Linked DNA regions of Homo sapiens. The protein of the gene in region 2 purifies or fractionates together with the protein of the main gene of each other region. This does not show direct contact. Each region holds a gene or a part of one and is shown on either strand. Other genes may lie near its edges.

Evidence for each region.
Region 1: the proteins of SPNS2 (region 2) and TRAFD1 purify together in Homo sapiens (affinity purification with mass spectrometry; one large-scale study listed by BioGRID and IntAct). This does not show direct contact.
Region 3: the proteins of SPNS2 (region 2) and PPP6R3 purify together in Homo sapiens (affinity purification with mass spectrometry; one large-scale study listed by BioGRID and IntAct). This does not show direct contact.
Region 4: the proteins of SPNS2 (region 2) and TTC27 purify together in Homo sapiens (affinity purification with mass spectrometry; one large-scale study listed by BioGRID and IntAct). This does not show direct contact.
Region 5: the proteins of SPNS2 (region 2) and RNGTT purify together in Homo sapiens (affinity purification with mass spectrometry; one large-scale study listed by BioGRID and IntAct). This does not show direct contact.
Region 6: the proteins of SPNS2 (region 2) and HK1 purify together in Homo sapiens (affinity purification with mass spectrometry; one large-scale study listed by BioGRID and IntAct). This does not show direct contact.
Region 7: the proteins of SPNS2 (region 2) and CLPB purify together in Homo sapiens (affinity purification with mass spectrometry; one large-scale study listed by BioGRID and IntAct). This does not show direct contact.

Annotation. Positions count from the first base shown.
Region 1 is NC_000012.12:112,149,560-112,151,831, reverse strand, and holds part of TRAFD1 (TRAF-type zinc finger domain-containing protein 1), read right to left. Parts: intron 2,082-2,272; coding exon 1,961-2,081; intron 32-1,960; coding exon 1-31. UniProt on the Homo sapiens protein: Negative feedback regulator that controls excessive innate immune responses. Regulates both Toll-like receptor 4 (TLR4) and DDX58/RIG1-like helicases (RLH) pathways.
Region 2 is NC_000017.11:4,497,566-4,501,680, reverse strand, and holds the start of SPNS2 (sphingosine-1-phosphate transporter SPNS2), read right to left. Parts: upstream 2,801-4,115; 5' UTR 2,634-2,800; coding exon 2,264-2,633; intron 1-2,263.
Region 3 is NC_000011.10:68,463,752-68,467,251, reverse strand, and holds part of PPP6R3 (serine/threonine-protein phosphatase 6 regulatory subunit 3), read right to left. Parts: intron 1-3,500.
Region 4 is NC_000002.12:32,631,050-32,634,549, reverse strand, and holds part of TTC27 (tetratricopeptide repeat protein 27), read right to left. Parts: intron 675-3,500; coding exon 545-674; intron 1-544.
Region 5 is NC_000006.12:88,904,619-88,908,118, forward strand, and holds part of RNGTT (mRNA-capping enzyme), read right to left. Parts: intron 1,823-3,500; coding exon 1,747-1,822; intron 338-1,746; coding exon 97-337; intron 1-96.
Region 6 is NC_000010.11:69,377,847-69,381,346, reverse strand, and holds part of HK1 (hexokinase-1), read right to left. Parts: intron 1,486-3,500; coding exon 1,252-1,485; intron 1-1,251. UniProt on the Homo sapiens protein: Catalyzes the phosphorylation of various hexoses, such as D-glucose, D-glucosamine, D-fructose, D-mannose and 2-deoxy-D-glucose, to hexose 6-phosphate (D-glucose 6-phosphate, D-glucosamine 6-phosphate, D-fructose 6-phosphate, D-mannose 6-phosphate and 2-deoxy-D-glucose 6-phosphate, respectively).
Region 7 is NC_000011.10:72,291,532-72,295,031, forward strand, and holds part of CLPB (mitochondrial disaggregase), read right to left. Parts: intron 3,163-3,500; coding exon 3,089-3,162; intron 2,914-3,088; coding exon 2,794-2,913; intron 2,596-2,793; coding exon 2,491-2,595; intron 2,085-2,490; coding exon 1,836-2,084; 3' UTR 1-1,835. UniProt on the Homo sapiens protein: Functions as a regulatory ATPase and participates in secretion/protein trafficking process. Has ATP-dependent protein disaggregase activity and is required to maintain the solubility of key mitochondrial proteins.

The DNA.
Region 1 (2,272 bases), on a different chromosome or scaffold from region 2:
GTATCATCCAGGTAACCAGAAGACAGGTCTCCTGAGAAGAGAAAATGGTAACAGCTTTAGGAAAAAGCCTGCTCTGGCTATAGTGCCAGGTTTAGGGCAGGAACAAAAAGATTCCAGATAGAAGACAACTGCTCAGCCAGGCGTGGTGGCTCATGCCTGTAAACCCAGCACTTTGGGAGGCCGAGGTGCGGGGATCACCTGAGGTCAAGAGTTAGAGACCAGCCTGGCCAACATGGTGAAATTCCATCTCTACTAAAAAAAAAATACAAAATTAGCCAGGTGAGGTGGCACACAGCTATAGTCTCAGCTACTCAGGAGGCTGAGACCAGGAGAATCACTTAAACCCAGGAGGTGAAGACTGCAGTGAGCCAAGATCATGCCACTGCACTCCAGCCTGGACAAGACAGAGCAAGACTGTGTCTCAAAAAAAAAAAAGACAACTGCTCACCCCAAAAGGCTGCTGGAACCCACATCTCCAGGGCAGAGATGGGGATATTTTATCAATTCTGCACATATTATCTGAGTCCTCAAAGACAGCCTCCTAACTATTCAACAATAGTGTGCAAGCAAACCTTGAAAAATAATTTTTTTTTTGAGATGGAGTCTTGCTCTGTCGCCCAGACTGGAGTGCAATGGCATGATTTTGGCTCACTGCAGCCTCTGCCTCCTGGATTCAAGTGATTCTCCTGCCTCAGCCTCCCAAGTAGCTGGGACTACTGGCGCCCGCCACCACGCCCGGCTAATTTTTGTATTTTTAGTAGAGACGGGGTTTCATGATGTCAGCCAGGCTGGTCTTGAACTCCCAACCTTGTGATCCGCCCACCTCAGCCTCCCAAAGTGCTGGGATTACAGGTGTGAGTCACCATGCCCAGCCAAAAAATAATTTCTAATTGGCTTTGTAGTGGTGAGGTTTCAAAAACAGTTTACTTGCCTAAACATGATGGTCTTAAGTAATAATAATAAGTTTGAGGCTGGGTGTGATGGCTCACACCTGTAATCCCAACACTTTGGGAGGCCGAGCTGGGAGGAACACTTGAGCCCAGGAGTTCAAGATCAGCCTGGACAATGTGGCGAAACCCCAACTCTACAAAAAAAAATTAAAAATTAGCTGGGTGTGTTGGTGGGCACCTAGCCTACCTATAGTCCCAGCTACTCAGGAGGCTAAGAGTGGGAGAATCACTTGAGCTCAAGAGGTTGAGACTGCAGTGATCACGCCACTGCACTCCAGCCTGGATGACAAAGAGACCCTGTCTAAAAAAAATAAATTAAATAAATAAGTTTGAGGTCGGTCACAGTGGCCTACGCATGTAACCCCAATGCTTTGGGAGTCCAAGGCAGGAGGACTACTTGAGGCCAAGAGTTCGAAATCACCCTGGGCAACATAGCAAGACCCTATCTCTACAAAAACAAAAAAATTAGTTGGGTGTAGTAGAGTGTGCCTGTAGTTCCAGCTACTTGGGAGGCTGAGGAGAGAGGATCACTTGAGCCCAGGAGTTTGAGGCTGTGGTAAGCTATGATTGTGCCACTGTACTCCAGCCTGGGTGACAGAGCAAGACTCTGTCTCTACAAAAAAATTAAATAATAATAATAGGTTTGAGTACCCTAAGTGTATTTCAACTTGAAATGGGGGCCCAGGGTAGCTACCATAAGGTCTGCAAATTATCTACAAATAATCCACTAAGTGCACAGATAGGAAACCAGAAACTTATTACAAGCACTTACTACTACATGTATCTCATGGATGTCCGCAAAGCCATTACCCTAAAAATCACACACTTGAGAGAGCTCAGTCTAATGTGGGACCACAACTACCTGCAGAGGAGTCCCCTATGAGACCCTAGTGTGTTTGGAAATTTGAGATGCAGGTAATCCCCACATTAGAGCAGTGGATGGGAAGTGGTAAACAGGCCGGAGCCAGCAGTAGACCTGCGGCCTTGGCTGAGTCCTGGCTAATAAATACCCTGGTGTCTGACACGCCTCCTGGGCAGCTCTGGTGAGGTCTCTTGAGGCTGGGAATCCAGTCTAGGAATCCCCTCTGTCACATGGTTGGTTGCAGTGGCTGGGCGTTGGTCACACTGGTCCTAAACAAGAAAAACCAGAATTAGTACCTCTGAATTGAGTCATTCCCAGAAAAGAGCATGCGATGGGAGGAACAGCAGTGTATTCCTCATCTGGAGGGGGACTTTGACAACCTCTGAAAGTTCTGGGAACTTTCAGAAACCACACATCTGGAATGGTTGCATTCAATCCCATCGGCACATGAGGCACTGAC
Region 2 (4,115 bases):
TCCTAAAAACTGAACTTGGGGAAGTGGAGATGGGGAAATCTACCATAGAGAGAGGGGCAACCAGGCTTATCCGGAGAGGAAACCTGTGTCTGTTGTGTGTTGGGGGTGGGGTGGTGTGTGAGCTCCCACTCCAGGCCAGGAGAGGGAGGGAGGCACAGCCCAGGCAAGTGTTTGCACAGGACTTTCCGGGCCTTCCTCCCTAACTGCCCCACGCCCCTCTTAGCCACCACTCCCCACCTCCCTTTACCAATTCACCACAAATTTCCTATCTCATTCCCCCATGCTGACAATCTGACTCAGAGACCTGAGTAGAAGTGGGAGCAGATAAGTGCCAGCCCTCCCTGATCCCACCCTCTCTGGCTCTGCCCCTGGCAGAGGCAGTTCCCCTAAGAACGTCAAAGGGGGTGGTCTGGGGCCAGAAAAAAAACAAGTTGGAGAGCGCTACAGTGCCAGAAGTAGTACCATTCCTTCTTCAGCTGAGAAAGGGTGGGAAGACCTCCTCCCAGGCAGAGCCTTACTGTTAGAGCTAACACCAGCTTTGCCAGTCACTTTCCTGGCCATCTTGAACGGGGGCTGTACAGGGACATTGGTCCCCCTATCTGTGTACAGAAGCCTTTTGTGAACTGACTACAGGTCCCAGGTATTCTCTGATTTCTCCCCCAAAGGATGGCGCTTATGCTCCCAGGTCCCCGGCAGCATGGTGCATGCGTGACAGCGGCTGGCGTTTTTGGGAGGTGCTCAATATTCCTGCTCTCTAGACCAAAGTAAGTTTCTCTTTGGGATAGCTCGACCCAGAAACTGATGCCACTGGTACCCACTTCCAATTTCCTCCAGCGGAAGGACAGAGAGCCAAGGGGGGTTGAAAGCAGGAATGGGGGGAGGGGGAAGCCTCTGCCCTCCCATCAGAATTCTTCCCTTCCATTTGACACAAAACTCCATTCAACAGACGGGGAGACTGAGGCCCAGAGAAGGCACCAGGTGGCATGTGGTTTATGCCCGGGCTCTCTTCCCTCAATTGCCGCAAAGTTCTCTTTAGAGTCTGTCCAAAAATAAATCCTTCCCTCTCTCCTATCTCCTCTCTCTCTCTGTTGTGTGTGTGTTTGATAGCTCCAGATTTTACTAAGCTATAGTTACGCAGGTTCTGGGCCAGCATGCCAGGCACACAGTACTGCTCTCCTCCTGCAGGGAGCCCCTTCCTATGCCAGTCTGGCCAAAGTCCTTCCCTCTCAAAGCTCCACCATTCCCAACCAGTAGCAGCTCAGTCTAGGGCAAATTCTTACCCCTAGACCCACCCCTAATTGCTGGGGAAGGGAGCCAGCAGAAGGCAATTCCAGAACCACGTGCGTCCCCCAAAGGCCCAATGATCAATCAACTCACAAACGGGCAAACAGACCTAAACACACGCTGAGACTGGCCCAAGGTCACACACCAAGCACATTAGGAGCAAAGCTGGGGCTAGAACCCAGTTGTTCTATCGATCCCAATCCCGTCCCCAAGGCTGATTCCCAGAGATGCTCCCTGAGGATGAGGCTCCACGTCTCTAGCTCCAGAGGCCTGCGCCCTACCCTACACCCCAAGCACCATAGAGCAGGGGGAGGCGTCTCCAGGCCTCTGTACAGGGCCAGCTGCAAACCGCAGCCTGGGTCCCCAGGCGCCGCGGACCCGCCCCGCCCCTCCCTCCGCTCCCCGCAGCCCGGAGCCTTTGTCAGCCACGCGCTCACACACAACCGCGCCGCCACGCGCACACACACCCGGTCTCCCTAGCGCACACCCGCAAGGGGCGCGCGCACTCGCCGCACGCACGCAGGGGGGTGGAGGCGGCGGAGAAAGGAAGGAACTGACGGGCCATGGACGGACAGACGACCTGGGCTGGGGGAAGGGAAGGGAAGGAGGCCCGGGAACCGGCAGCTGGGGTCGGAGGGGGCGCAGAGACAAGGAGACAGAGAGACGCAGAGGAGACTCTTGGAGAGGAGGACAACGGATGGGCCGTCAAGGGCTGGAGAGGACGCGCGGGCTGCTCCAGGGGTGGGGACTCCTCTATCCCTTGGCCCCGGGTGTGTATGAGCGGGGAGCTGGATTGTACCCGTGGTGCACGGAGGCATCCCTTGCCCAGTTGTGCCTGAGCAGAGGGTCCGTAGGGACCTCACGTAGGGCCTGGAGATAGCAGGCCTGAGACCAAAAGCTCTCTGGGGTACCTCCCTCGAGGCGGGTGGTGGGATGGGGTGGGGTCTTGGTCCTCGGGCTGGGTGGGGCACTCGCTCACCTGCCACGGTGTACCTGTCCAGGTAGTTGAGCACGTTGCCCAAGCTGAGGATGGCGGCGGCTGCCCCCCGCCCGCGGCCCAAGCTGGCCGGTTTGGGCTGCTGAGCGCCGGGGCCCTTTGCAGTAGCTGCGCAGCCGGGGGTGCCGGGGGTGCCGGGGGGTCCGGTCGGGGCCCGCCTTACGCTGCCCGACAGCGTCTGCACCTCATCGCCCGCGGCCGAGACTCCAGCGCCGCCCGCGCCCCGCGCCCCGCAGCAACCGCTACCGCCAGCCCCTCGCTGCGCCCCCCGGCGCCGGCGCCGCCGCTCCGCGTCCGCCTCCTCCTCCTCCGCGCCGCCCGCCGCCGCCGAGGCGCATTCCAGGCACATCATGCCGGCCCGGATCGGGGCGGCGGGGGGCGCGGGGGGCGCGGGGCCCAGGCTGGGCCCGCTCAGCGCGTGCGTGCGCCGCGGAGCCGCCACTGCACCATCCTGGTCGGGCCCCGTCGGCTCCTGCGCTCCGGCCCCGGCTGCGGCGCTGCCACCGCTCAGCTCGCTGCGCCTCGTTCGCCGCCGCGGCTCTGACAGCTGCGGCCCGGCCCCGCCCACCAGGCCCGCGCCCAATCAGCTCCGGGCTCGGGCCACAGCCCCGCCCCGCACGTGCTGCCCTGGGGGTGGGGGGCCCGGGGACTGGGGGCCCGGGCGGCAGAGCCCCTCCTGCCAATGGGGGCGCAGTCACGCCGGGGCCGACCGGCCGCGAACGCCCGCGGGGAGCGGGAGAGGGTTTGCTCTGGCTACGGAGCTGGGAGCAGGGTGCTGGTGACGGGGCTCCCAGCACCTACTCAGTACCCTTCACCCAACCCCTGCCTCGGGCGTGGACTCCCGGCGGAGGCTCTGGGAGCCGGGCTGAGGGCTTGAGCCTAGCGTATCTGGGAGAACTGGAGAGAGGAGTCTCAGATGGCTAAAGTCAGGGGCGCCAGTTGGAGAGCCGGTGGCTCCTCCGATACTCACACGCCCGGATTTAACCAGTTCAGGGAGGGCCCAGAACCTAGACCTCCACCAGTCATGGTGGGCTGTGTCTCCCACCTCCCCAGGGCAACCCAGATCCAGCCCCCAACCTACCCCGGGCCCATTCCTGTGTGGGCACCCGGACCCTACCCTTGCCCCACAGAGTGGCCCGCAGCCCCTGGCGGGGAGAGCAAGGGCTGTGATTGGGGCCCAACAGAAACAGGATATTCAGAAGGGGCTTTCCCTCCTGAGGGACCACATCTCCAAGCTTCAGACTTCCAGGTATGTGCTAGAGAGGGTACAAAGCCCCCAGTGGCAGACAGGAGGCTGGGTCCTAGCTCAGCTCTGCCCTGGTGTGTGGCATGATCCTGAACATGACACCCACTCTCTGGGCCTCCATTTCTGTATCTGGGGGCAGATGGCAGGATGGGATTCAGTCTGGAAATCCACGGGTGGTCACCTCCCCTTGGTGGGACGGGGCGGGGGTCTGCCTCCTATGGAGAGTGGTTGGGGTGCTTCTGTGTTCCTGACATCCCATCACGGTTTCACCCCTCCTTAGAGGTGCTGTGGCTCTGTGACGATCTCCCCCTTCCCTCCCCCATTCACCTGTTTGGGGAATTAAAATCGAAATTAAAATCCTGTATAAAGTGCAGAGGACAGAATGTTAGAACTGGACAAACCCTCGGAAACCAGTTAATCATTCCCTGTGTTTCACAGACAAGTCCCAGGGCACGGACGTGACCCATTACGAACAGGCAGTGAAGCTGTGGCAGGGCTGGAGCTGCCCCAGGCTCTGGCATCATCCCCGAGGGCTGGAGCTCACTCCCCGCTAGAGGCTTTTCCGGACCCCACGTCCACAGGCAGGTG
Region 3 (3,500 bases), on a different chromosome or scaffold from region 2:
AGTACAAAATCAGAGCCTCCTTATATCTGTAAAAAGATGTTCAGAACCTATCGAACTTTAATTGCATAAGTTCAGTCAACTGTATAGTCTTCACTAATGCATCTAAAACAGGTCAACTCTAGCCAGCCGTAAGTGACAATTAGTAAATAGCCTCTACTCAGGGTAAAGCCAGCTCTTTGCCCAGTCTGTGACATGACAATGTCCTAGCTAGGGCCGGGTGCAGCGGCTCACGCCTGTAATCCCAGCACTTTGGGAGGCCAAGGCGGGCGGCTCACTAAGAGATCGAGACCATCCTGGCTAACACGGTGAAACCCCGTCTCTACTAAAAATACAAAAAATGGCCAGGCGCGGTGGCTCACGCCTGTAATCCCAGCACTTTGGGAGGCCAAGGCGGGCGGATCACAAGGTCAGGAGATGGAGACCATCCTGGCTAACACGGAGAAACCCCATCTCTATAAAAATACAAAAAAAATTAGCCGGGCGTGGTGGCAGGCACCTGTAGTCCCAGCTACTCGGGAGGCTGAGGCAGGAGAATGGTGTGAACCTGGGAGGCGGAGCTTGCAGTGAGCCGAGATAGCGCCACTGCACTCCAGCCCGGGCGACAGTGTGAGACTCCGTCTCAAAATAAATAAATAAATACAAAAAATTAGCCGGGCATGGTGGCCGGCCCCTGTAGTCCCAGCTACTGGGGAGGCTGAGGCAGGAGAATGGCGTGAACCCGGGAGGCAGAGCTGGCAGTGAGCCGAGACCACGCCACTGCACTCCAGCCTGGGTGACAGAGCGAGACTCCGTCTCAACAAAAAAAAAAAAAAAAAAAAGAAAATGTCCTAGCTAGGCATAGAGATAAGATACCTTTCCACATACTGTCAAATGCCCTTTTACTTGCTTCTTTACCACGTAGCCAACCTACCTGGTATCCAAATGTCAGTCTGTAATCTTTCAATACCTGAAATAAACTGAGTATTGATCTAACTAGCAACTATCTCCCTCCTCATAAAACTAAAGGGGGTGAGAAGTAGGAAAGGGGGCTTCCATGACAAATAAATCTAAGCCAAAGTCAAAAGGCCAAAACAAAATCTCCAGTCAACCTAGATCCATAATGCAGCAGGAGAAACACCCCCTCCCACTTGAAGTAGCATCTATTTCAAGAATGCCGGAAACATTTTGCAAAAACCTACAGCAAGCTTCGGACGGGTCTGGAACCAGAGAGTCAGTGTCTGAGGTTTGGTCAAAGGATAACTGTTGTGTAGGGAGCTATAAACAGCTATCTGTCATTACAAAACGGCTTCAGTATGGGAAGAATGGCACTGCTTTTTAAGACTCCTCAAACTAAGGAGGCAAGTCGAAGTAATCATTTCTTATAAATGAGTAACAAAGTGTAACTATCTTATTCTTTTGCAAAACTTCTGGCAATCTCAACCACCCAAAGTTTAAACAAATCAACCAACTGACCAGCAAACAGAAGCTCTTTCCTCCCAGGCCCCATTGACACCATGTACAATTCTTAACAGCTTTGTCGTCTCTTGTTTGCCTCTTCCTCTAGACTGCAGGTCCTTAAGGGCCTGTTCATCAGTGAATCCCTAATACAGTTCCTAGCAGAGTAAGGACTCAATTAATGTATTTGCTGATGAAATAAATGGATATTAGAAGTAGATGGTGGTCACTGGTAGTTCTCAACATAGGCACAGGCCGAATTTCAGGATGAAGAATAAGAAAATGCCTCCATGACCTTTTGTAACTTCAGATATTAACATTTAGCTGCTAAAAATTTATAGTTTTCCTAATATTCTTCCATTCCATAAACTAGATAATCTAAATTTTAATATGAGCAAAAAAGATCTACCCTTCTCTCTACCACTGCATCTCATCTCCCCAGGAGAAAAGAACACTTCTCTGCTGGGATCAGAGTCTAGGGCACAGAAGAGTCCAACTTACCAGTGGGCAGGATCACTGTGTTAAAGGCTGAGCATACTGTATGCCTATCTGTGCCCTCAATGGGCAGAACTGGTAAACTGATCCAGGGCTAATTCTCTGGGAATAGGTCTTTATTAAAACAAAAACAAAAACAAAAAACAGGCATGGTGGCTCACGCCTGTAATCCCAGCACTTTGGGAGGCCGAGGCGGGCGGATCACTTGAGGTCAGGAGATCGGGACCAGCCTGGCCCACATGGTGAAACCCCATCTCTACTAAAAATACAAAAATGAGCCAGGTGTGGTGGCACGCACCTGTAATCCTAGCTACTCAGGAGGCTAAGGCAGGAGAATCACTTGAACCCAGGAGGCGGAGGTTGCAGTGAGCCAAGATCATGCCACTGCACTCCAGCCTGGGTGACATAGTGAGACTGTCTCCGAAAAAAAAAAAAAAAAGTTGAAGCTGGCATCTAAAACCAGACCTGACCACTGACTGACAAAAGGAGGGCAAAAGATACTAACTCAAAAATTACAGTAGTGTAAGATTATTCAGCACAGAAGCAAACTCTAAATATCTAAGAATTTTGCTTAGTTTCAGCACAGTATGGTAATGTATTTTCATGAGGTTAAGAAAAAAAAGTCCTAAGATATTTTATAAAATCAATTAACAAATGCTTCTAAAGTTCAGTCTTCAGGCATCTGAAAAATGGTTAAGTATACCATCTAAATAATCCCCACTACTAAATAATCTCCAAGGCAGGATCTAGGTACTGCAAAGACCAAGTTCACAGATCACCGAAAGGAACCCTTAACTCACAAACAGTCCCTAAACCTGTGGTGTAAAACAGTGGTTCCAAAATTCAGCTGCATTTCAGTATTGTCTGAGAAGCTTCTAAAAAATAGATTCTCGTGGCCGGGCATGGTAGCTCACACCTGTAATCCCAGCACTTTGGGAGGCCGAGGCGGGTAGATCACGAGGTCAGGAGTTCAAGACCACCCTGGCCAAGATGTGAAACTCCATCTCTACTAAAAATACAAAAAACAGCCGGGCATGGTGGCGGGTGCCTGTAATCCCCGCCACTAGGGAGGCTGAGGCAGAGAACTGCTTGAACCCAGGAGGCAGAGGTTGCAGTGAGCCGAGATGGCACCACCACACTCCAGCCTGGGCGACAGAGCTAGACTCATCTCAAAAAAAATTAATAAGATTCTCAATCCCACCATTTCCAGAGGTGGAGTCCAACATCCATGGTCTTAAAAAATTTCTAATTATTCTAATGCAGGCTTATTCTAATGTAGGCCAGTCTCACATCTATCTAAGTGCAGGATTTCTCAACCTCAGCAGTGTTGCTATTTGGGACTGGATACTTTTGCTGGCGGGCAGGGAGGAGGCTATGCTGGACACTGTAGGATGTTTAGCAGTATCCTTGGCCTCTACCCTCCAGAAGCACACTGCCCACTCCCAGAGGTGTAACAAGCAAAAATATGTCCAGACACTGCCAAATGTTTCCTGGGGGGTGAGGGGGGAACCACCCCCAACTGAGAACTCTTGAACTAGAGTAAATCAAAAGACAATCATTTGAAGTTAAGA
Region 4 (3,500 bases), on a different chromosome or scaffold from region 2:
TGGGAGGCTGAGGCAGGCAGACCACTTGAGCCCAGGAGTTTCAGACCAGCCTGGGCAACATGGCAAAACTCCATCTCTACAAAAAAATTAGCTGGACATGTTGGCATGCAACTGTAGTCCCAACTACTTGGGAGGCTGAGGTGGGAAGATCGCCTGAGCCTGAGTAGGTTGAGGGTGCAGTGAGCTGTAATCCAGCCACTGTACAACAGCCTGGATGACTGAGTGAGATACCATCTCAAAAAAAAAAAATCTTTATGTAACTGAGGTGATACAACCAACTAAACAACTGGTGCAGCTGTCTGTACTTTCATTAAAAAACACAGCTAACACAGCTCCATAAAATGGAGTGTGTATGAAGAGGAGTTTGACAAAGGAACTTCTGGAAATCTGTGAAAATCTGATCAATGAACAAGCATTCTTAGTACTTTTGTGCAAACCATAAAGTCATGTTTCTTTCCTACTATGAGTTCCAGTTTATAAAGACCTGCTTATAAAAAATAAATAACATAATAATAATTACATACAACATTTTCAAGAAGCATACCTCACTGAATTGCTGGAACAAAACAGATGACAAAAAGTCCTGAGGGTGTAAGTCAACAGGGGGCCCCGTCCAGTTGCTCTGAACAAAAAGTTGCAAACTGCTCACACCAAGTAGAAATATCAACTGTTGTCTGCATATAAGAATGGTTAAAGAAATAAATATGAACTACTATCACTGTATAATCTCAAACACACTATTCCATTTCAGTTTTATTAAGAAAATAATATCTATCAACATTTATTGAGACTATCCTAGAGTATTACCAAAAAAAAAAATTTCTAAAACTTAAAACAATTTAGGTTAGCTAGGCACAGTGGTTCATGCCTGTAATTCCAGCACTTTGGAAGGCCACGGTAGGAGGATCATTTGAACCCAGGAGTTCAAAACCAGCCTGAGAAACATAGTGAGACCCTGTCTCTACAAAAAAATTAAAAGTTAGCCGGCATGGTGGTACATCCCAGCTACTCAAGAGGCTGATGCATGAGGATTGCTTGCAGCCCAGGAGTTTGAGGCTGTAGTAAGCTTTGATCATAGCACTGTACTCCAGCCTAGATGATAAAGCGAGACCCTGTCTCTCTTAAAAAAAAAAGAAATTAGGTCTACAATATCCAATATTATAGCCACGAGCCAAACATGGTTTAAATTTGCATTAGTTAAAATTAATAAAATTTATAATTCAGTTCCTTAGTCATACTTTCCATATTTCAAGTGCTCAATAGTTAAGTGTGGCTAGTGGCTACCATGTGGGCAATGAAGATAGAGAGCACTTCTATCTCCACGGAAAATTATCTTGAACGGTGTTGATTTAGGTTCTGATCAGACATCTATAAGTTTTTCTTGCACTCCCTTTAACAGCTCTGATGTTGCAAGATGTATAGAAAACTGACTTTATACAAAAGAAAAGTGATGATATAAAGTTGTTGCTAATTGTTTACCAATCCCATACCACCAAATGCTAGAACAACAACAACAACAAAACATATAGATATTTTAGTGAAAACTCTATTTTTCAGTCTTGCTGTGATGTGAGACAGGGATAGGCAAACTTTTTCTAAATATGAAATATTTTAGGCTTTGCATATCATGTTTGTTTTTTTCCAACCCTTTAAAAATGTAAAACCCATTAATTCTTAGCCACTTAGTTAGCCTGCCAGCCATAATGTGCCAAACCCTAAATTAGGATCTAAATAGGTACAGATCCAACTCTAGCAAATAACAGCCAGGGAATCCTGGAGTTTCATTCTGAAGAGAAAGTATTAGTAATCACTTTTTTCCCCACAGCCCCTAGGCCCTTCCTTAAAAGGAAGAGTCTTTCAGAAAAAGAAAAAAAAAAATCAAACATACAAGCCTATGGTAGCAAAAATATAAAACTCTGGATGCAATGCAAATAAGCAGCATTAGAGAAAAAAGATAACAAAAGAGCTGGTATGCAATCAGAAGTTTGGAAATTTGGAGAAAACAGCCTTAATAAACTGTCCTAATCAAAAAACAAAATCCATAAGGTGAACTGAAAATACACTTTAACTTTCAAATGTCTGAAAATGAGTCAACTGAAATGTCTCTTTTTAGCTTTATGTGACAAGATAGAAATCTGGTATATCAGTGAATAATGCATTTGTGTGAATGTGTTGTTTTAATGGGTGCCACAAGGCTAGTTGCTATGAGAGTGCACACATATAAGAAAGCAATGAGAATCCAGCCGGGCGGAGTGACTCATGCCTATAATCCCCACACTTAGTGAGGCAGAGGTGAGGATTGCTTGAGCCCAGGAGTTCGAGACCAGCCTGAGCAACATATCAAGACACCATCTCTACAAAAAGGAACTAAAAAAAAAAAAAAAAAAGAATGATACCAAAGGAACATAACTACCAGTAAACTAAAAAAAATTAAATGGAGGCTGGGCGAAGTGGCTCACGTCTGTAATCCCAGCACTTTGGGAGGCCGAGGTGGGCAGATCACCTGAGGTCAGCAGTTCAAGACCAGCCTGGCCAACATGGTGAAACCCCATCTCTACTAAACATACAAAAAAAATGAGCCAGGTGTGGCACAGGCCTGTAATCCCAGCTACATGGGAACCTGAGGGAAGAGAATCACTTGAACTTGGGAGGCGGAGGTTGCAGTGAGCCGAGATCACGCCTCTGCACTCCAGCCTGGGCAACAGAGTGATACTCCATCAAAAAAAAAAAAGAAAAAAGAAAATGAATAATATTAATTTTCAAAATAAAATTAAAAGCCTGTAGTAGCATTCTTTTGCAAACTCCTTATGAATATGGGTTATGCTTTATTCATCCTCAGAACCTCCACATCTACTACAATAGTTTATTTGTTGAAGGACTAAATGAAGCTATTTCCTAGAAATAATGGTAAAATAAAATTGCATGCATTTATAAGATAATTAAAGCTTGACATGGTTGCCACAGATAGTAGACGAAAGATAGAGGTATCAAATTTATAACAATGAAATATAAGCCACTGAAAAGCTTAGGTTTCCCTGCTGTGTAACTATCTGCTATACTTAACCCTATAAAATTACACAAACTTTAATGGAAGAAGGTAAACCAAGGGCTTCCTTACAAAAACATTAAGTTCTCTGAGCTCTATAAAGATAATAATCTAAAACATAATAAATAGTTACAAATTAGCACTCAGCTATGCAGAAATAACAAGATTGAAAGTATGTTTTTTGTTTTTTGGTTTTTTTTTGAGACAGAGTCTCGCTCTGTCGCCCAGGCTAGAGTGCAATGGCGGGATATTGGCTCACTACAACCTCCACCTCCCAGGTTCAAGCGATTCTTCGGCCTCAGCCTCCCTAGCAGCTGGGATTACAGGCGCATGCCACCATGCCCAGCTAATTTTTGTATTTTTGTATAGACGGGGTTTCACCATGTTTGCCAGGCTGGTCTTAAACTCCTGACCTCATGTGATCCGCCCGCCTCGGCCTCCGAAAGCACTGGGA
Region 5 (3,500 bases), on a different chromosome or scaffold from region 2:
GCTAAAGAAACATGGCCAATATTCCATTTTTATAAATCTCAATAAGCTTGCAGAAAAAGGAAAAAAAAAACCTATTATAATATTTTTAAACATTACCAGTTTTAACCGTTCTTTTCTCCTTTTGCCAAAAGAAGCACTTGACCCGGGTTCTGATTCCTTCTTTCCATCCTCATCCTCATCTTCGTCTTCATCATCCTCAAAACACCAATCTGGCAATAGAGGTGGGGGTGGTGCTTCCTCTATGTCACCATACCGACGAAAAAGTTCCTTCAAATAATCACCCTTGTAGATTCCTGGTGGTCTGGCTTGGGCAAAAGTAGCAACTGCTGCTTCGATACTATAGGAAACAAACACCATGCAATTTCCTCGCTATCCTCTATTTATGCAGGCTTATCAAAAACTCACTTATTATATTCAAGGCTCCATATAAAGTACAACAGAAGTTTATAAAATGGGCAAATCACAATCCTCACCCTCAAGTCATTCAATCTATTAAGGGACACATTCATTCTGAAAAGGTTTTAATATAAGGTATTCAGAAAATTCTGAAATTCTAAAAATAAATTGCTATGAGTATATAGTAGAGACCTAGATAGGGTCTGTGAAGAATTTAGTCTTGAAGGTTGAGGTCTGACTCTGCAGCAAAACATCAGTCAAAAAAACAACAATGTGAGCAAAGTAAAAGCATATTGATTTTACAGGAACTTTCAACAGATCCAGGCACTAAGAGTCTAGATCATCAAAGAGAGGATAAGCATAGGCTAAATCTGACATAGGAAACTGAGATCATTGTGGAGAGCATCTGAATGGTCAGAGCTAGAAAGTACATGCAGTACAGAACCACCAACAATGCATACTGCAAAATTCAAAATCATATGTGTACTTCAACTGATTATATTCAAAAAAGGACCTACTATGTGAAAATCTTTGTAAACATAAATAATGATGCTCCCTCAGTCAACAAGAAAATTCAGTTAGTAATATATTCTCTTAAGAATATTGGGTACTAAAGTCGTAATCTCTCAGGATCTAAAAACACACTTCAAAAATAACAGATGCTCAATAAAGACATGTTGATTGGCTTAAATGGAGTAACACTCTCCCAAAAATACTAAAATACAAAATATTGGAAGAATCTGTCTCTGATAATTCTGTAAGAGGTGAAAAAAATCTGAAAAAGTGAATATACAGTTTATGAAATTCATAAGCACTCAAAGTGATTTGCTGGTTAATGCAAAACACCTGGCTGGGTGTGGTGGCTCATGCCTGTAATCCCAACATTTTGGGAGGCCAAGGGTGGAAGATAACTTTAGCCCAGGAATTCAAGATCAGCCTGGGTAACATATGGAGACCTCCTCACTAGACAAAAAAGAAAAAATTAGCCAGGCATGGGTGGCACATACTTGTGGTCCCAGCTACTTGAGAGGCTGAGGCGGGAGGATTGCTTGATCCCAAGAGGTGAATGCTGCAATGAGCCATGATCACACCACTACACTCCAGCCTGGATGACAGAGGAAACCTTGTCTCAAAGAACAAAACAAAACATACATATATACACATACACACATACACACACACACCAAGTAATGGTAGTATAAAGATTAACCATATCTAAAATGAAAAGCAGTTCAAATTACATTAATCATGAGTTCACCAAAAACTTGACAATACAAAATTCTGCAACTAAAATATCAATAAAATTTTTTATTACAAAATACATCTTCCATTATAACAAGATACAAATACCTCCAATCCATTTTCTCCACCAAAAAGGCACATATGAGGAAACCAGTGCGATTGAAGCCATGAGTACAATGAACACCTAGAAAATAAAGTAGCTTTGGTTAAAATTAACAAATCACTGCAGAGGCCACATTTACTTTAAAATTCCAACCTGCAATCAAAACATTTCAGCTAGTTTATAAAATAATTACATTTTTTAATTTTTTAACTTGAAACACCCTTATAACTTGAAAACTTGTCAGTTTGAATTGCTTAGAATCTAATTTATAACTAGCTAGAAGTTTAAGTGTAATATATAGGTTTATTGATGTAAAACTGTCTCTACTGTTTAACAAGTTCTCCTAAAGCTAGAAGATTCCAAGCATTTTAAATAAGGAGGTATTTTCATCAAACACACAACTCAAAAGGACACATAAAACACATACACACAAGATCCTTCTGACCCTCAAACTTTAAATTTCTCTAGTAGAAAAAAAACGGTCCTCTTCATGATCAATGGCATATATTTGCAAAATAGTCAAATCCTATTTTCTAAAATCCAGAAGCTAGAACAGAGCAAATAAACTAATAGAAATATAAATTCATATGGGGCCTGATACTAATTAAATATAATCAACAAAAGTGACTAGCTACAGAAAATAATTAACTGATAGATATATAGTACAATAAAAATTAAGTTACCTTGAAGCTCTCTAGAAACCAACTAACTGTATTTTCAAGTTAGGTTATAATCTTTCTAAATAAATTTTTAAAAGAAAGAAACCAGCTAGGAAAGAAAATTTATTTTCTTAAACTCTTTCTCAGAACATATTCAAGATCATTTTAACTACTGATATGGTTTGGCTCTGTGTCCCCGTCCAAATCTCATCTCAATTTGTAATCCCCACAATCCCCATGAGGGAGAGATCTGGTGGGAGGTGACTGAATCATGGAGGTGGTTTCCCCCATGCTGTTCTTGTGATAGTGAGTGAGTTCTCATGAGATCTGATGGTTTTGTAAGTGTTTGACAGTTCCTCCTTCACATGCCCTCTCTCTCTCTTCTCACCACTAAGATTGTAAGTGTTTGACAGTTCCTCCTTCACATGCCCTCTCTCTTTTCTCACCACTTAAGACGTGCCTGTTTCCCCTTCCACCATGATTGTAAGTTTTCTGAGGCCTCCCCAGGCATGCACAACTGTGAGTCCATTAAATTTCCTTCCTTCATAAATTACCCATTCTCGAGTAGTATCTTTATGTGAGAAGAGACGAATATAACTAGTTTGAAAATAGTAATTAAAACATGACAATATTGCTGACTCTCCTACAGTCTTCAAAATGAAGCTTTTCCTGTTATTTCTATTTAATTAAAGGATATCCTAATATTTAAGCTGTATCTTTTTTTTTTTTTTTTTTTTTAGAGACAGGATCTCATTCTGTCAACCAGGCTGGAGTTCAGTAGCATGATCAGGTTCCACAGCCTTGACCTCCTGGGCTCAAGTGATCCTCCCACCTCAACCTCCAGAGTAGCTGGAACTACAGGCTCACACCACCATCCCCAGCTAATTTTTTTCTATGGTAAAGACAGGGTCTCATTATGTTGCTCAGGCTGGTCTCAAACTCATGGGATCAAGCAATCCTCTCACTTCAGCCTCCCCAAGTCTGGGATTACAGGCATGAGCCACAATGCCCAGCCTGTATCTTTCTAATATTACCTTCTACAAATTATTCTTCTCTGTATATATAGATCATACTGATACAGTGCAACTAAGATCAAATAT
Region 6 (3,500 bases), on a different chromosome or scaffold from region 2:
TCCTTGGCTCAAACCCTATCCCCTCAGCAACACAAAACTATTTCTCTCTCTTTCTTTTTTTGAGACAGGAGCTCATTCTGTCCCCCAGGCTGGAGTGTAGAGGCACATCAGGTCACTGCAACCTCTGCACCCCCATGCTCAAGTGATCCTCCCACCTCAGCCTCCCAAGTAACTGGGATTATAGGCACACCACCACACCCAGCTGTGTATGATTTTTTGTAGAGCCACATTGCCCAGGCTGGTCTCGAACTCCTGGGCTCAAGCAATCCACCTGCCTCAGCCTCCCAAAGTGCTGGGATTACAAGTGTGAGCTGCCATGCCAGGCCAGAACTATTTCAATTGAAGTCGACATTCTTTGAGCCATCAACAGAACTGGGTGTGAAGGTGCAGTACTGACATGGGTGCTTCACATGCACATTGTATTTATATGTACAGTGGGAAACAACTCTGAGGTCCTGTGCAAAACAATCATGTCACAGGCTAGCATTAAAACTTATTAAATAATGACTTAGAATTTCCCTTTAGCCTTTTAAAAAAAGTATAAGCCACGTTCTCACAGGACAACATGGCTTCTAAAACTAAGGTGAGATGGCATGAGGACTGGCTGGGGCCACTGACAGACCAGAAGGCTGTGTGGGGAACAAAGCACCTCCTTGCCAATGGGGACAACTTACAGCTCCTGCAGCTCCAGCTCTCAGAGGCCAAGCACAGACAAGCTGCCCATTTAAAAAAGTAAAGTCTGAGGGTTTGGGGGGTTTTAACAGGAGCTTCTGAAACAAGAATGTGGGTACCACACCTATGACCCAAGGTCCTCCTGATGAAATGCGGACGAGAGACAGACACATTCCACCCAGAGGAGCCGACAGCTACAGAAATCTCCATCTCGACTTTTGACAGGGCGAGGTAACGACAGAGTGCAGAAGCAATACCAGCAAGAATCGACTAAGGGCGATACTTCCCAAGGGGGCGACGCTGACCTTATGCCCAGAACTAAGCATGTTATTTATCTATTTATTTATTTTCAATTTTTCGTAAAGATGAGGTCTTACTATGTTGCCCAGGCTGTTCTCAAACTCCTTCCTCCTGCCTCGGCCTCTCAAAGTGCTAAGATTACAGGCATGAGCCACAGCCCCCGACCACCATTGTCTTGTCTGCCGAAAAACGTTTACCGGGTACAAAAGTCTGATCTCTGGAGAAGGTCCCTACCCACAATGGGTACAGAGTGCCAATGATAGCAAAGGGCAGACTCACTGTGGGTGCGTCTTGTAAAGAGATCCGTCGACACCAACCGTGGTCCGCAGCCTGGGTGTGCCCTTGTTATCACGCAGGCGGTTCAAGATGGCGCCCAGTGTGGCAGCCACCAAGTTGGCTGAGCGAAATGAGACAATGGTGCAAACGTGCTGGACTGAGACACAGTCATCATCGGACGGCTCCACTCCCAGGCGGGTCAGGATTTCTTTGGCATTGTGGAGGCCTTCCTTATTCCTGTGAAGTTAGAAGCCAATACTGATGCACTGAGGACCACATGAGGCAGTGCAAAGCACTGAGGCTCAAAGGTGCTGGAAAGGGACAGCCCCACTTACCATGTGTGGGATGGTATGGGATGGTATGGGATGAAGACTGTCAAATGCCTGAGAAGAGCCCAGGAAGGGTTCTCCTCCATAAGAAATGCCAGGTAGTGATAGGAAAAACTGTACCAGGTTGCACTATGCCAAGCCAGGACCATGAAGAGAAGTGGAGAGGCAAGACTATGTGGCCTCTGAACAGGTGGCGAAATGGCTGCCACCACCCAGGGCTCATGAGGCTCAGGAGAACCTCCCACTCGTGGGGTCTGTGAGTTGCCCCTGGATGCTTATACATCCTTCCTTGATGTCTCTCAGTGAAATTGTAATTTTCTGTACACGTGTTTTGTGTATCTTTTGTTGGATTCATTCTGAAGTACTTTATAGTTTTGTTATTGCTGCAAATGGTGCCTTTAAAATATATATGTATACATACAGGCATACATATACACTCACACATACACACAAACACATATACATACACTCTATCTTTGCAGCTTTCCTGTAAATCTAAAATTATTCTTAAAAATGTGTTTTAAAATATGTACATATTTTTATTATTGCTGATAGAAATACAGTTGACTTCTGTATCTTATCTCCAGACATCTTTTTTTGACAGATTTTTTTTAATATTTAAAAACAAAACCAACCTCGCCCCAAATAACCCCCAAACAAAAAACCAGATTAAATAAAATGTACAGTGAATATACCCAGCAAACATCTGTATGTGCAATCAAATACTGTGTCTGTTACTGCGGCACGAACCTCAAACAAACAATATACAAGTGTTCTGGGAGGGTCGGGGGAGTCCCAAGTTTTAACTCTGTGGGGTCTAGGAAGACAAGATGGGGAAGTGAGAGAATGGGGAAATCAATTTTGTTTATCTTAATTCTGTCCATATAAATATATTCATAAAGACCAAAAAAGGAAAGGAAGCTTGGGATGTTAAGGTAATACGAGAATAGGAGAGTGTGGGACTTTCCCAATTCTACCTGACCAAAAAATATGAGAGAAATTAATTTTATGATGGGAGAAGAGATTTTAAAAATGATAGAAGAGGATGGGGGCTGGGCACAGTGGCTCACACCTGTAATCCCAGCACTTTGGGAGGCCAAAGTGGGAGGGTCACCTGAGGTCAGGAGTTTGAGACCAGCCTGGCCAACAAGGTGAAACCCCATCCAGACATCTTTTTAACCTCTCCCGTCATTCTATTCATTTGTCTGTAGATATTTTGGGGGTATTCCATATAGACTTTTACCATTTGCAAATAATGACAGTTTCACTTCTTTTTTGATTCTCATACCTTTAATTTATCTCTCGTCTTTTCTTTAAAAACAAAAACAAAAACGAAAACCCACTGGCTAAGACTCCAGTACGATGCCAAATAGAAACTGGTGATACTGTCTCGCTCCTGATTTTAGAGAATGCCTCTAACATCTGCTCTTGTAGGATGTTTTTATAGTTTTTTTTTTTTTGAGATAGCCTTTATTATAATATACATGCTTTCTTGAGCTAGCTGGGTTTGTGTTTCTTGGTAACCAAAGAGTCAATACCAGAAACAGGCCAAGAGGAAGGCATGCATTTCCTGACTTGGCCAGTGATTTTCAAGACAATCCACGAGTCTCCCGCTCCCCTTCCTTCCCAGCCACTGACCAGGAGACTCATGAAAAGGGACAGCTGGAAACTCAGGAGAGTGATCATACAACAAACTCCAGCACATGGATTTGGCAGAAGAGTTGGTCCAGATAAACCCCTTTCCTCTTCCAGCAGCTGCCTTCTCTAACCTCAAAGAGAGCTGATGCAAATCTTCACAAGGAGACAGAGAATCCCGGGTTTCTTGTGTGATGCCAAGGGGCTACAGTTAGTTGCTGGCTGGCTCTGTCCTTCCTTCTAACTGTCCTGTCTCATCTGTTAACCGGTGTTTCTCAAACTTGCACG
Region 7 (3,500 bases), on a different chromosome or scaffold from region 2:
TCCTGACCTCAGGTAATCTGCCTGCCTCAGCCTCCCAAAGTGCTGGAATTACAGGCATGAGCCACCACACCCGGCAATTTCCTGGTTTTGATAAACTACAGTATGGCTTTGTAGGATGTAATCATTGGGAGATGCTAGATGAAAGATACATGGGAATTTTCTACTATTTCTGCAACTTTCTCTAAGTCTAAAATTATTTCAAAACAAAAAGTAAAAAACAATGAAAAGCAGGCCGGGTCCAGTGGCTCATGCCTGTAATCCCAGCACTTTGGGAGGCCGAGGCAGGCAGATCACAAGGTCAGGAGATTGAGACCATCCTGGCTAACATGGTGAAACCCTGTCTCTACTAAAAATACAAAAAGGTAGCCGGGCGTGGTGGTGGGCACCTGTAGTCCCAGCTACTCGGGAGGCTGAGGCAGGAGAATGGCGTGAACCTGGGAGGCAGGGCTTGCAGTGAGCCGAGATCGCGCCACTGCACTCCAGCTTGGGGGACAGAGTGAGACTCTGTCTCAAAAAAAAAAAAAAAAAAAAAAAGGCAGTCAGTGAGGTAGGGAGCAGCAGCCCCTGAGGGGTAGACAGTGATCCAAGCATCTGCTGGAGCTCACACCCTGGATTCTGACTGCCTCATACCCACCATACTGTTAGGACATGCTTCCATTACCCAAGGGACTTTGATTCCTGGCCCCATTCTCTGCTTCCTGAAAGACTAGCTAACACTACGCGAGGGTTCCATGAAGGGCCTGTGGGGGAAGGTGGGTGGACTGCTTATCAGCAGTGGCTACTGTAGATGGTGCCCAAGGATGCACCAGGCCTTACTGTGCCTGGCTAAGGTGGGCTTGAAACATTGGCTGGTCTGTGAAATGCCCTTGGGGGACGGTGTCCAGACCCTCTGCTTTGTGACTAACATGCAGACTGAATAAACTGCATGTTTATTCCAGGCTCGTTTAGCTGGACGAGCAGTACAGACAGGGCTGAGGCTGACTCCATGGCCATGTGGGCAGAGGTCAAACCCATGATCTCTCTTCCTACAGCTTCCTAATGTCTGCGATGTTGGTCTTTTGAAGGAGGCCCCCACAGAGCTGAGCTTGCTTGGTTATCTGGGACTGCTGCTCAGTCTGAGTAGGGGAGGGTAATGAACCAGTCAGGCCTCCTCCTGGAGGTGCCCAACACTGGCCTAGTCCCCAAGGCTGACGAAACATGGTCTGGCCTGACCCCAGGACGTGGGGTGAGGAGGAACACTGGGCATAATATAGTAGCGGAAACAGGCAAGCCTCTATGGGTCCCTTCCCCTTAGAATTTTAGGGTAGGGAACGAGGAGGCTACAGACTAAATTGCAGAACTATCTGCACCTGGGCCTCTGAGCTCTTCCTCCACTCCCAGTGGAGCCATTCTGGGGACTGAGTTGCATGAGGACTAGCAGAGGGTGGCAGTTCAGTCTGGTCCCTGTCTTCTTCCAGCCAGCTGTGTTCTTAGCTGCCATACTTCTGAGCTTCCTGGGAACATGAGAAAGTCTGGCGACTATGGGGGATGGGGATCATTCTGAAGGAAATAAGGGACCTCCATCCCTCCTTGCCTTGAAGGGGGTGGAAAGGCAGCTCCTCTCCTGAAGGCTTGTTAGCAGGTTATGGGCCCACAACAAAGGGGCCAGAGTAGGGCGAAATTCCTCCTTCAGGTTTTGGGGCTGAGAAGGGGTCTTCATGGGCTGTGAGGAGGTAAGCAGGCCTGAGACTGGGTAGAGATGGGAGCGGCATGAGGGGAAGGTAAGTCAGTTGCCATGCCACAGCCAAGGGGCCTTTATTGGATGGTGAGGGCACATAGGAGCAGGCAGGTGGCTGCTAGATGGTGTTGCACACCTTCTCAGGGTGCAGTGGTGCCCGGATGTCCAGTCTGCGAGTCTTGCTGTCCTTGTCGATGATCTCCAGACGCAGCTTGGGGAGGCGCTTCTCAGCCTGGGGTGAGGGCAGTTCTGGGCTTTTGAGTAGCTGCTTGTCTGAGTCCTCCACCGTGATGCGCAAAGTACAGCCCCCTGGCAGCAGGTCCTGCTCATAGGCTGCTGCCAGCTGGTTCACCACACGGCGTTCTACCTGTCGGTGGGGAGGTGAAGTGGTCACTCCCTCGGCCTGGACCCAGCTTGGAGGTCGGCCTCCATCACTTACTGCTAGGGCAACTCAGAGACCTCCTTTGAGCCTGAGCCTCAGCTTTCTCATTTGCCAATTGGGGCTAATAACAGCTAGCTCGCAGGACTGCGCTCAAGTTTCTGAGGCTCCCAGCCCAGTTCCCTGGTCCTAGTGGGGTTCATACTGGGCTACCCTCCAGCAGGGGTTTTACTTGGTGATCATGTGTTTATGGTTCTGAATGGGCATCCACTCTGGGTGTGAATATCCAGCAACCAAGCTATAGGGAGGCAGGCTGAGAGCTCAGGGACTGGGTCTGGGGGGCCCTGGGGAGGGAGGTGTGGAGGCGCCTCATTTCTCAGGCTCCTGTGCTCACCTCATGTTTGATGGAGCGGGCGCCATAGTGCACATTGTAGCCGTCGACCAGCACATCTGCCACCTCGCGGTCCCAGAGCAGCGTGATGTTGTGCCTTTGCTTGGCCTGAGATGGGTCAGATAGAAGCATGCCTGCATGTGGCCCACTGCTTTCCATCTCTTGCCACTCTGGCCTGAGGCCAGGGCCACTGGCCCCACACCACTGTGCTCCACCTTTTATGTGTGTGGGGGTGCCCCCAGTCCAGTGTTCCAGATTTCCAGTGGCTGGCTATCCCGCCCCCACCCATGGGCAGTTCCCTCTTACTCTCTTGGCCCAGAAGTTTAGTTCCTTGTTGACGAGTTGGATGAGCTCCGAGTGGCAGAAGGGGAGGAAGTAGACGATCTCATTGATCCGTCCCAGAAACTCATCCCTCCGGAAGTGAGCCTGAAGGGCCAGGTTAGGGGTGGGATGAGCTCAGTGACCCAGAGCGGGTTAGGGAAATTACCAGACACCAGGGGAAGACTGGGGAAATTATGGGGCTTCCAGATCTTTAGGATGGCTAAGATCACCCTCCCCCAACCTTAGGCTCCAGCAGGAAGTGCCAAGAAAGACCTCTTACTTTCAGGATAGGGCGAATCACATTCTCCTTGAAGTTCTTTGAGATGGTGATCTTGTCACTTATCTGGACATCCCCTGTGGAGAAGAATCATAAACTGCTTATTCCCCACATTCAGGGAACTTTGGGGGCTGTGCCTGCCCCTTGGCCTGCCCATGGAAAGAGCCCTGGTCCTGTCCATCTGTGTGGTCCTGGTCAAGGTCTAAGGCTCTCTGGGCTTCAGCCTGGTCTCCTCCTCTGACCAGGCACTTTCGGAGGCCTTTCCAGCTCTCAAGTGTATGAAGTCTGCGATTCCTCAGGGTGGGAGTTGTGTGAGGGAGGGAGAGGAGAGGAAACGTCAGGATTAAGACTTGAGTCCTGACTTGGAGGAAGGGGGCTGCAGGGCTCGATCTTGAATGGAAAAGGTGACAGACAC